Linked DNA regions of Homo sapiens: region 2 is linked to region 1. Evidence: fine-mapped expression QTL. A gene starts in region 1. The other region holds a variant in brackets. All regions are shown on one strand. Distances are from middle to middle.

The links. PIP is the estimated chance that this variant, and not a neighbour inherited with it, causes the effect.
Region 2: its variant is the best candidate, but not a certain one, in a credible set for the expression of NLRC4 in cerebral cortex (GTEx, PIP 0.85).

The regions. Positions count from the first base shown.
Region 1 is chr2:32,262,581-32,267,961 of GRCh38, forward strand. It overlaps NLRC4 (NLR family CARD domain containing 4), which reads right to left and starts at 2,306. Exons shown (of 9, transcript NM_001199138.2): 1 at 2,158-2,306.
Region 2 is chr2:32,223,997-32,229,377 of GRCh38, forward strand. It overlaps SLC30A6 (solute carrier family 30 member 6), which reads left to right. Exons shown (of 14, transcript NM_017964.5): 14 at 1-383. NLRC4 (NLR family CARD domain containing 4) reads right to left here. Exons shown (of 9, transcript NM_001199138.2): 9 at 457-769. The coding sequence ends at 477. Among named protein-coding and RNA genes, the nearest start is that of NLRC4, 38 kb to the right of the region's middle. The variant A/G (reference allele first, on the strand shown) is at 2,381.

The DNA.
Region 1 (5,381 bases):
CCTGGCCAACATGGTGAAACCCCATCTCTGCTAAAAGTACAAGAAATTAGCCAGGCGTGGAGGTGCACACCTGTAATCCCAGCTACTTGGGAAGCTGGGACAGGAGAGTTTCTTGAACCCAGGAGGTGGAGGTTTCAGTGAGCCAAGATAGCACCATTGCACTCCAGCCTGGGTGACAGAGAGAGACTCTGTCTCAGACAAAAAAAAAAAAGAATAGGACTGAGACCAGTGTACTCTCTTGGAATGTAGCTATGGCCCTGCAACCCCTCCCCGCAAGCTGTCCAGTGAATAACTGAATTGGGTGGAAGAAGTCCTTCCCCCACATTTGTACATTGGAAAATAATATAATAATATATATTATATATATATAGGCAATCTGCCTGCCTCGGCCTCCCAAAGTGCTGGGATTACAGGCATAAGCCACCATGCCCAGCTGGAAAATAATATTTAGTACTAATTCTAAAATTGGCATTTTCTTAAAAAAGGTTACATGAGCTCCTCAGAGAACTGAAGTTTCTCTGGACCCATATAACCCACGTCTATGGGGTCATTCCCACACCTCACAGATAAAATAAGGGAAAGAGTACATATAATTAGGAGCAGACAGGAAGCACACAGAAATGGAAAATGTGTGTGGGCTTTGGCATTGCAGATCTGAATTCAAATCCTCACTCTGCACCTTATGAGGTAAGTATCCCTAGACATGTTACTTAGCCTTTCCGAATCTTGCTTTCCAAATCATGCATAATATTCACCTCCCTGGACTATTGTGAAGATTAAACATGAAAGTAGTTGTGACAAAGATGGTCAGTGGGTATTATCTGTCTTCCTTTCTAGTAAAAAGGCTCTAGACTAGAATGTTCTTAGGTCTTTAATAGGCTTCAGCAATCTCACATGTTAATATTAGTGTTATGTGCTGAACTGGGCTTCCCCCAAATCCATATGTTGAAGCCCTGAACCTCAGAATGTGACTGTATTTGCAGACAGAGCCTTTAAAGAGGTCATTAAGCTCAAATGAGGCTGTTATGAGAAGAGGAAATCGGGACACACAAAGGGAGATACCAGGAATGTGCATACAGAGAGAAAAGGCCAAGGAGGGAGGCGTGGGGAGAAGCCAACCCTGCTGACACCTTGGTCTTGGACTTGCAGCCTCCAGAACTGTGGGAATATAAATTTCTGTTGTTTAAGCCACCCAGTCTATGGTATTTTAAACACATTAATACGACTAATATTATAAAAGTGTGTGAACAGTTAAGAAGTGTGCTGACCAGGTTCTATCCTAGTTTTGTAGACAATTAGCAGTGTGATGTAGGGCAGGACATTTAACTCCTCTCTACCACATTTTCCACCTCTCAAAGCCAGGCTGCAAGGATCTACTGAGATAATGTACATAAAGACCCTATCACGAAATAGGTGTCCCGTAAAGGGTGATTTCCTTCACTTCTGTCTCCAAATATCAGGTTTCTCATCAGTAACTTGGGAGATTGGATGGACTAAGTAGTCCACCTCGTTCCTTTCAGCTTTGATCATCTGTGATTCTAACAACAGTCTTAGCAACAAGAGTGAGTTTCCTGGCCGGGCACGTTGGCTCACACCTGTAATCCCAGCACTTTGGGAGGCTGAGGTGGGCAGATCACGAGGTCAGGAGTTGAGACCAGTCTGGCCAACATGGTGAAACCCTGTCTCTACTAAAAATACAAAAATTAGCTGGGGCGCGGTGCCGGGTGCCTGTAATCCCAGCTACTTGGGAGGCTGAGGCAGGAGAATTGCTTGAACCCAGGAGGCAGAGGTTGCAGTGAGCCGAGATCACGCCACTGCAGTCCAGCCTGGGTGACAGAGCAAGACTCTGTCTCAAAAAAAAAAAAAAAAAAAGAGTGAGTTTCCTTTCTGTAATGCCAAAAAGTGTTTCCAAAGTCCTTTCCATCTCACAGTAGTCCAAGGGGTACATGTACCCCTTGAACCTGATGAAGCCCCAGCAGACCCGATTAACCACCCCTAAAGGTTTCTCGGCAGGCAAATCCAGCCAGGCATGCAAATCACACTCGTCAATGTTAAGGCTTTTGTACATCCCAGACACAAGCTTTAAATGAATGTAAACCCAGATTTTAATATTTGGGCCCCAGACCTTAAAAATCCCATTCTCTCTACCCACAGTACCTGGCTGAGCAATCCAATTGCCCTCTTCTTGGGAGACCAAGACATGTTTTTAAAATAAAGTTTCTTTGTATTTGCTTTCCGTTTCAGTGAGGCCTCGAGTTCTTGTAGACCAGATACCTTCTTGTTCTGTGAGAGGACAGTGTACAGAGAGGGGAACTGCTGAGCAGTTCCTTTTTTTTTTTTCAAAGCACAGTAAGAGTGGTTTGGACACAAGTACTACCAGTTCAGAAAGGGAAGATGGGTGTAGGCAGGAGTAGCCGGGGAAGAAGTAGAACTTCAGAGTAAAAGATGCAAGAGCTAGAAATTCCGTCAAGAAAGGAATTACTCATTTGTTTCCTGTTTGTTCACAACATATGAATTCATTGCTGTTGAGTTACTTATTCTATACCTTAAAATGAAACAAAGTCTTCTGAACATCCAACATATATTTTTTTTCTTTTTCTTTCTTTTTTCTTTTTTTTGAGACAGAGTCTTGTTCTGTCACCCAAGCTGGAGGGCAGTGGCACAATCTCAGCTCACTGCAACCTCTGCCTCCCGGGTTCAAGCGTTCCTCCCGCCTCAGTCCTCCCAGTAGCTAAGACTACAGGCGTGCACCACCATGCCCGGCTAATTTTTGTATTTTTAGTAGAGACAGAATTTCACCATGTTGGCCAGGCTGGTCTCGAACTCCTGACCTCAGGCAATCTGCCAGCCTCAGCCTCCCAAAGTGCTGGGATTACAGGCGTGAGCCACCATGCCCAGCCACAACATGTATTTTTAATGCTTAACCATGGGAGATAGAGCGGTAAATGAAATGAGCCAGCTTAGTTGGCTAAAGCACATTGCTACTGCATTCAAGGTCATGCTTACCCCTGTACCTTGAATCCCAGAGGACTTCCAGCAGATGTGTTCTCTCAGTCAGCAGGGTTCTGGGCAAGGTCACACAGGGCAAACAGATCACCAGTTTTGGTCCACTCCACCGATGACGCACGGGGACACCCTCCGGAGTATAAACAGCCAGGGGCTTGCACAGGCACACTCACATTGGACGTTTGTGTTCACAGACTCCAGGAGGCCAGCTTATACTCAGCTGAGGACTGAAGAAATCTCTCTGCACTTCCCTTGAGGATGACATTCTTGCATACTCTTTCCTCTGTCTTTGCATAAACTACCAGGAACATGTCTTTGTGTTACATAACTTCTTATTTCAAAAAGAGCATTCTGACAGTAGCCTATCTGCCATAGAGGGATACCAAAGTTTCCCGGCAAATAAATGTCTACATCCTGGGTTTTCTAAGGGGGCATCAGTGTCAGTGTTTCCCAACTTGTGAGGTGGGTTTCTCTGAAGTGAGATTGAGGGCTACACTATCAGCTAGATTTTTAAATTGTAATGAAACCTATATATAAACATATGTTCAAGAGAAAAAACTGCAAAGACAGCCACCAAAATAGTAATGATGCTTATTGCTGGGGAATACAATTATAAGCAATTTTAAATTTCTGTCTTTGGCTTATCTGTATATTCTAATTTTATTTATCAACTTATTTATTTTTTATTTTATTTGTTTATTTATTTATTTATTTATTTATTTGAGACAGAGTCTCGTTCTGTTGCCCAGGCTGGAGTGGAGTGCAGTGGCTCAATCTTGGCTCACTGCAACCTCTGCCTCCCAGGCTCAAGCAATTCTTGTGCCTCAGCCTCTCAAGTAGCTGGGATTTCAGGTGTGGGCCACCACCATGGCTAATTTTTTGTATTTTTAGTAGAGACAGGGTTTTGCTATGTTGGCCAAGCTGGTCTTGAGCTCTTGGTCTCCAGTGATCCACCTGTGTTGTCCTCCTAAAGTAATGGGATTACAGGCGGGAGCCACCATGCCCAACCTGTATATTCTAATTCTTCATAGCAAACACCTATTACTTTTGTACTAATAAATGATGTAATATAGAATAAAAAGGGAAAATGTAGAAATATGGTTGTAGTAGGCTGAATAGTGGCTACCCAAATATCCCAAATCCTAATCCCTGGGAACTGTAAATATTGTGTCTTTCCAGATATGTTCCATTTAAGGCTCTGAAGATGGGGAGAGAATTCTGGATGATCCAGGTGGGCCCTTAATAATGGTCCCTTATTACAGAGAGCCAGAGGGAGATTTGAAACTGACAGGAGAAGTCAGTAAGACCATGAATGCAGAGATTCGAGTAATACGGCTACGAGCCAAAAGATGCCAGCAGCCACCTGCAGCTGGAAGAGGCATAAATGGATTCTCCCCTAAAGCTCCCAGGAGTGTGGCCCTGCTGACACCCTGATTTCAGCCCCATGATACTGATGTTGGACTGGTCCTCAGAACTGTGAAAGAATAAATTTCTGTTGTTTTAAACCACCCAGTTTATGATATTTTGTTACAGCAACCACAGTAGACTAATACAGTAGTATTTCATAGTAAAATAAGCAAAATTATATCCATATTCATTCAAGTACATCTTCTGGGCTGCCTCACCAGTTTCCTTTGTGAGTGGATTTGCAGTCAGGTGTTTTCAGGGCATTTCAAATAGGTAATTAACTAGTAACTTCGGCATCCTACGTTCCAACAGTTACGTCCCCTGCCCTTATGTTCTTCCTCCCAGTCTCTCCCAACGCTTATTATCCTAGGAGTGTGGTAAAGTGGAAATGCCCAGAGCTCTGGAGCCAAGTAGACCTGAGTTCAAGTCTGGGTTCCTTCCTGTGACTAATACAAGTCACCTTAGCTTCTTAGCAGTGCAATGATGGTTCCCCAAGTTGCCCCAGGGTTGTTGTGAATATCAGCTGAGATGCCATCTGTGAAGTACCACATGGCACTAACTATTCTGTGACTTTAAGCATATGTAGCTACTCATGCTTTTAACTCCCAGTTTAATGCGGAGGGAAGGAAAAAGTCACGATACTTTTCTTCCTAGAGGCCTGTAACTCATAACTCCAAAAATAATTATTCTGGAATTCTGTTAGTCTTCTGCTTACATATTTAGTGGCAGGGAAGTCACTGGGCCAAATCAGGCAGGCAGCTTCCTAATATGCCTTAATAAAGAGGGGTCAATTTTTTTTTTTTTTTTTTTTTGAGACGGATTCTCACTTTGTCACCCAGGCTGGAGAGCAGTGGCTGCAATCTCAGCTCACTGCAACCTCCACCTCCTGGGTTCAAGCGATTCTCCTGCCTCAGTCTCCCAAGTAGCTGGGATTACAGGTGCGCACCACTATGCACGGGCTTTTTTTT
Region 2 (5,381 bases), 39 kb before region 1:
TCTTTTTTGGGAGTCTGATCTCCTTCTAATATCAGAAAGTGCTTTTTATATTCCAGATTGCTTGAATTAAACTGTTTGGATTAAAGAACATATATGGAGTTTCCTCTCTGGTTTTAAATAATCTTTCTTTATTCAGTAGCTATTAATAATTTATCTCATATTCAGCGAATATTTATTGAGAATATTGTTGAGAATCTCTTACATGCCAGGCACTATACTAAGTTAATATGCATTCAGTATACCAGTTGGTGTGACCCAGACCAAAGGTAACACAAAGATGAATGAGAATTCCTTCAAGGCGCCGATAATCCTAGTAGGAGAGCTAAGACACAAAACTGTTGCATGTTTTTAATCATCAAATTAAACTTCTTTCCACGTCCTTATCTTCTTTGGCATCCTTTTGCAAGATTTTTTTTAACTACCAGGCTTAAAATAATGAGGTCCCAGAGCACTTACTGGCTTCGAGTACACTTTATTTAAGCAGTTACTAGTTTAAAAGCACCTGTAATAACACTGAGATCATCATCATCAAATTGCCACCCAACAAGCCTAGCTTCTTGCAGAAAAGTTAACTTGGATAACACTTGGCTAAGTTTTCTGACTAATGCTGGATCAGGTAGAAATTCTTTAGTACTAAAGTCAAAAAACACTAATTGCTTAAGATTCTCAAATACACCCATGAAGGCAAGCCATCCATCACTGCTCACACGATTTCCCGCCAAATTCAACTGCTGGAAGTTTTTCAGAGGGTTCTTTCCAAAAAATGCACCTGGGTAAAGAAATAAGTATATTAGTTGGAAGAAAAATTTTTTTTAAAAAAAAAGAGAAATAGGTTCTACATTTATTTTACATACTTTTTTTTCACTCTGAAATGGCCATGTTTGAACCAGTGCTTTGCCTCAGAAAGAAATTATTAATATAATTCTCTATAGCTAGGGCAGTGATTGTGAATATGGTCTATTATATTTTCCTAGAGTATAAGGGAATCTGATAAATAGTGATTCGTAGTGAGGTAGCAACAATATGTAAATGAATTACTTTTTTTTCCCCTTTTCCTTACTCCTAGGAAATGGAAGGTTGCTTTAATTAAATATTCAGTACTTGTTTTCAAAACTGGAGTCAATCTTTGGCAATATTAAGTCGTTTCCTCTTCTGAAAAAGTAAACACCACCTAACTGTTGTTTCTATGGGTATGTTCCTAACTGTAAACTTGAGTAAGTGAGCCTCCTTCAGTATCTAAAGATTTGGGTGTTTTTGTTTACCTGTTTATGTATAACCCTCCCGAGCCTCTTCAGGAAGTTCCTCCATTCCTTACAGAATAGGGCACCTAAAGTATTTCCTACATAGGGTAGGTGGATATCCTGTCTTTCTGATACACAAAGAATGCACACACACACACATACATACAAAGGATGTGTGTGTGTGTGTGTGTGTGTGTGTGTGTGTGTGTATACATACACAAATAGTTTAGTGTTCATTCTTTATCCCATGTTACCAGTTTAGGTGGTACTGGAACCCAAGTGAGTCTTGCAATAAGAAAAAATACCTTTCTTTCAGGTTATTTACCATCATACAGATTGGCCAGTATACAACATTAGGATTTCACAAAACTAGCTCTGTGTTAATTACACATATTAAATTGTGCAAAGCGTTAGCCCTACCCACCTACCTGGCCCTTTCTGGATGACTAAGTTCACCTTGAAGTACAGAGTGGACAGACAGGCAGACTGGACATGGGAACTCTTACTTACATGTTTATACTCCAGAGTATCACACACAAAATGCAGAAGATGTATGCCTGGTTTATCAATCCACATTACTCGGCTCATCCGAGCTCATCTTAGTCTTAGTGTACCTCACCCAACTTTGGAGGGTTAATTTGTTGTATATTAAACTTGTGTTTCTTGGGAGATGTGTAATATTAGATAATGTTCCAGAAACTGACCCTTATGGAAATGAAGGTCCATGATTCAGTTTGGATTCCAAGTAGGAAAAGAGGTTTTAAAAGTTCCTTTCCATTGTCTCAGTGAGAAGACCACTAAAGAGTTCAAGTTAAAGAAGGAAAGATTCGGTGCTGTACAACCTTAAGGTTAGCAAGCAAAGACTAAAAGGTATCTGCTACCAGTAATGAGGGCTTAATGACAGAAATGGACAGTCTTGTCCGACCAGCTTACGTGGGTGAGGTCAACCTAGTTATGCACTGAAACTATACCCTTACCCACTTTCAGTAAAGGTGTTTACCAGCTCCGTAGTGAGAGGAGATCTGTGAATTTGGTGTCTGATGTCACTGCATGGCCTTGTGTAGTTTGTTCAGTGCAACTAAGTACATTCTAGAGTGTGTCCTTAGTCAATGTCAGCCAATGCTTTTATCACCATCATA[A/G]GGTCTTGAGTTTCGAAAGGTCTTCAGGTTCTTCTTTACAGACACCTAAAGTGATTGGCCCTGCCTGACCGTGGTCAAGATGCTAGCGGCTAAAGTGGGCAAAGCCAGGTAAGGAGATGATTCACAGGGTTCTGCCTTCATGTCTCTTACCCATGGTCAGTGTCACTGACACCATCTTTGGGCCTTCTTTGCCACTTTTATTAATTTGAAAAGTGAGACAGAGGCCGGGTGCGGTGGCTCATGCCTATAATCCCAGCACTTTGGGAGGCCAAGGCGGGCAGATCACCTGAGGTCAGGAGTTTGAGACCAGCCTGACCAACATGGAGAAACCCCGTCTCTAGTAAAAATACAGAATTAGCCAGGCGTGGTGGTGCATGCCTGTAATCCCAGCTATTCGGGAGGCTGAGGCAGGAGGATCACTTGAACCCAGGAGGCAGAGGTTGCGGTGAGCAGAGATCACACCATTGCACTCCAGCCTGGGTAACGAGTGAAACTCCATTTCAAAAAAAAAAAGAGAAGAAAAGTGAGACAGACTGCTAGTTGTTCCCAAAACTGTCTCTCCTTATTCCATAGTTAATAGAGTTTTATTTCGGCATATGGCCACTCATATCCCAACCTCCCTTGCTATTAGGTGTGGCTAAATTTTTGCCAAGGAAGTATAGGCAGAAGTGATGTGTGCAACTTCCATGTCACTTTTCCGCTTTTCCCCTCTTCTACTAGGTTGAAATGATCACAGGGCAGTGACCTAGCTATGGCCATAAAGTCAAAAATAACACTCTTAAGGAATAGAGGAGTAAAAAAAAAAAGTAGGGGTCTGGGCCTGAAAGACTGCACAGAGGAAAACCACCCCACCTGCCTGGACTGCTCATTTCTGGACTGTTACATGATAGAGAATCAAGTTCTGCCTTCTGTAAGCCATGGTATAGTTGGGTCTCTGTTATCACAGCGTAGCCTATGCCCAGCCCAAATAGTACCTAGGTCCTTACTTTCCCCTGCCTTCCACCTCCTCTGTTCCTTGGAGGATGGCTTTCTCCCTGCTCTCTCTTCCATCTCATGTTCATGTCCTTTCTGCCTTTGCCCCTTCTCCATATGCTTCCCAGCATGGCATGCACTCAGTCCAAATGCTGGTTGCCAGTTGTGTGTCTATTTAAGGCTCTTTCCCCAAAGATCAACTTTTTTTCTCCTTCTCAGCTAGCAGAACATATTTTCACCACCTAAAAGGAATTTAAGAAGAATTTAAAGCCCATTCCACCCTCACAGGGTGAGCAATTTATAGTGGTTATCTACTAAGGTATAAGGATCTTATCATCAATTTAAGAGAGTTTCTTAGATAATTATTGGAATGTGTGCTAGTGCAGGAACCAAGAACAAACAACATTTGTCATAAGCCAAGGGCATGCCTTTTGTTCATTTAATCTGCAGTGCTTATGTTATGAGGAGCAGACTAGATCCAAGAGAAACAGAATCCATGACATTTAGAGCCATAGGCTGTATGTGGGCTGTGGAGAGTGCAAATGGCTTGATTGGAATTCCAGGAAAAATCTCAGATGCCCTGGGTAGAAGGGTTCTGATTCTTGGGGGTTCCTGTATCCCAAACACAACTCTTCATTTGTGTTGTCCTGTAGTTCACCTGAACGAGTACCAGAGTTCTCACTGTTTATTCATTCAGCAACATCTTTAGTGCTACTATGTGCTGCGGATTATGCTGGGTGCTGGGGATATGTGTAAACGACAGACATGGTCCCTGTCTAAATGGGCTTACAAAATAGTGTGAAGACATGCATTATAAAGTAATTAGATGGGTGGTGGGTGCTATGGTAGGTCAGGGTACCCTGGGAGCACACAAAAGCAATAGGCTTTCCCACTCCACTTTGTTCCCAGAACACTTGCAATTGGGCTTATATGCTCCAGGAGGAAGACTGGAGGATTCTTAGGAGAAATGGAACTGCCCCCCGGGAAAAGGCCCTACAAAGAAGGGGCCATTTTGCTTGCCCAATCACCCCCTAGTGGAGTTAGCCTGTCAAAAATTCACCGCCTCCCTTAGACACACAGAACTCCCTATCAACTTGTGTCTCCCTCTAAAATGTGAAGAGGACAGTGCAGGATTATCAGACATTTGACAACAGCCTCCCACAAGGAAGACTGAGACTAAAAGCCAAAACAACTCCCAAAGAAATCAGGCACTGTAGAAAACAAGAAAAATCAAACTCCAAAGACCTAAGTTTTTCAGAGATCCTAAGTTTTTCAGTAGACTGCATCTACTCAGCAACAATAAGATGCTAAGAAAGAGCTTTTGGAAAATAAAATATGATAGCGGGATCTATACAGCAGAATGATTGGGCCCAGGATTTAACACAGAGCTTCTAGAACATGAATAGGGTCTGCGATGGCTTTTTTTTTTTCTTTTTTTGAGACAGGTTCTGGCTCTGTTGCCCAGGAGTGCAGTGGTGCAATCTCAGCTCACTGCAATCTGCCCCACTGGCTCAAGTAAGTGATCCTGCCAACTCAGCTTCCCGTATAGCTGGGATTATAAGTATGTGCACTACGCCCAGCTAATTTTTGTATTTTTAGTAGAGACAGGGTTTCACCATGTTGGCCAGGCTGGTTTTGAACTCCTGACCTCAAGTGATACACCCACCTTGGCCTCACGAAGTGCTGGGATTACAGGCATGAGCTCTCTTTGAGAACAGGCTGGATAGCAGAGTTCAGCTTCAAACATCCAAGTTGAAAGATACCATTTAACAAAGGGTTTTGTTAGAGCAGGTGAAATTGGTCAGGCATGGTGGCTCATGCCTGTAAGCCCAGCACTTTGGGAGGCTGAAGCAGGCAGATCACTTGAGGTCGGGAGTTTGAGACCAGCCTGGCCAACATGATGAAACCTCGTCTCTACTAAAAATACAAAAATTAGCTGGGCATAGTGCACACACTTATAATGGCACATACTTATAGTGGCGGCATGGACCGGTAATCCCAGCTACTGGGGAGGCTGAGGCAGGAGAAT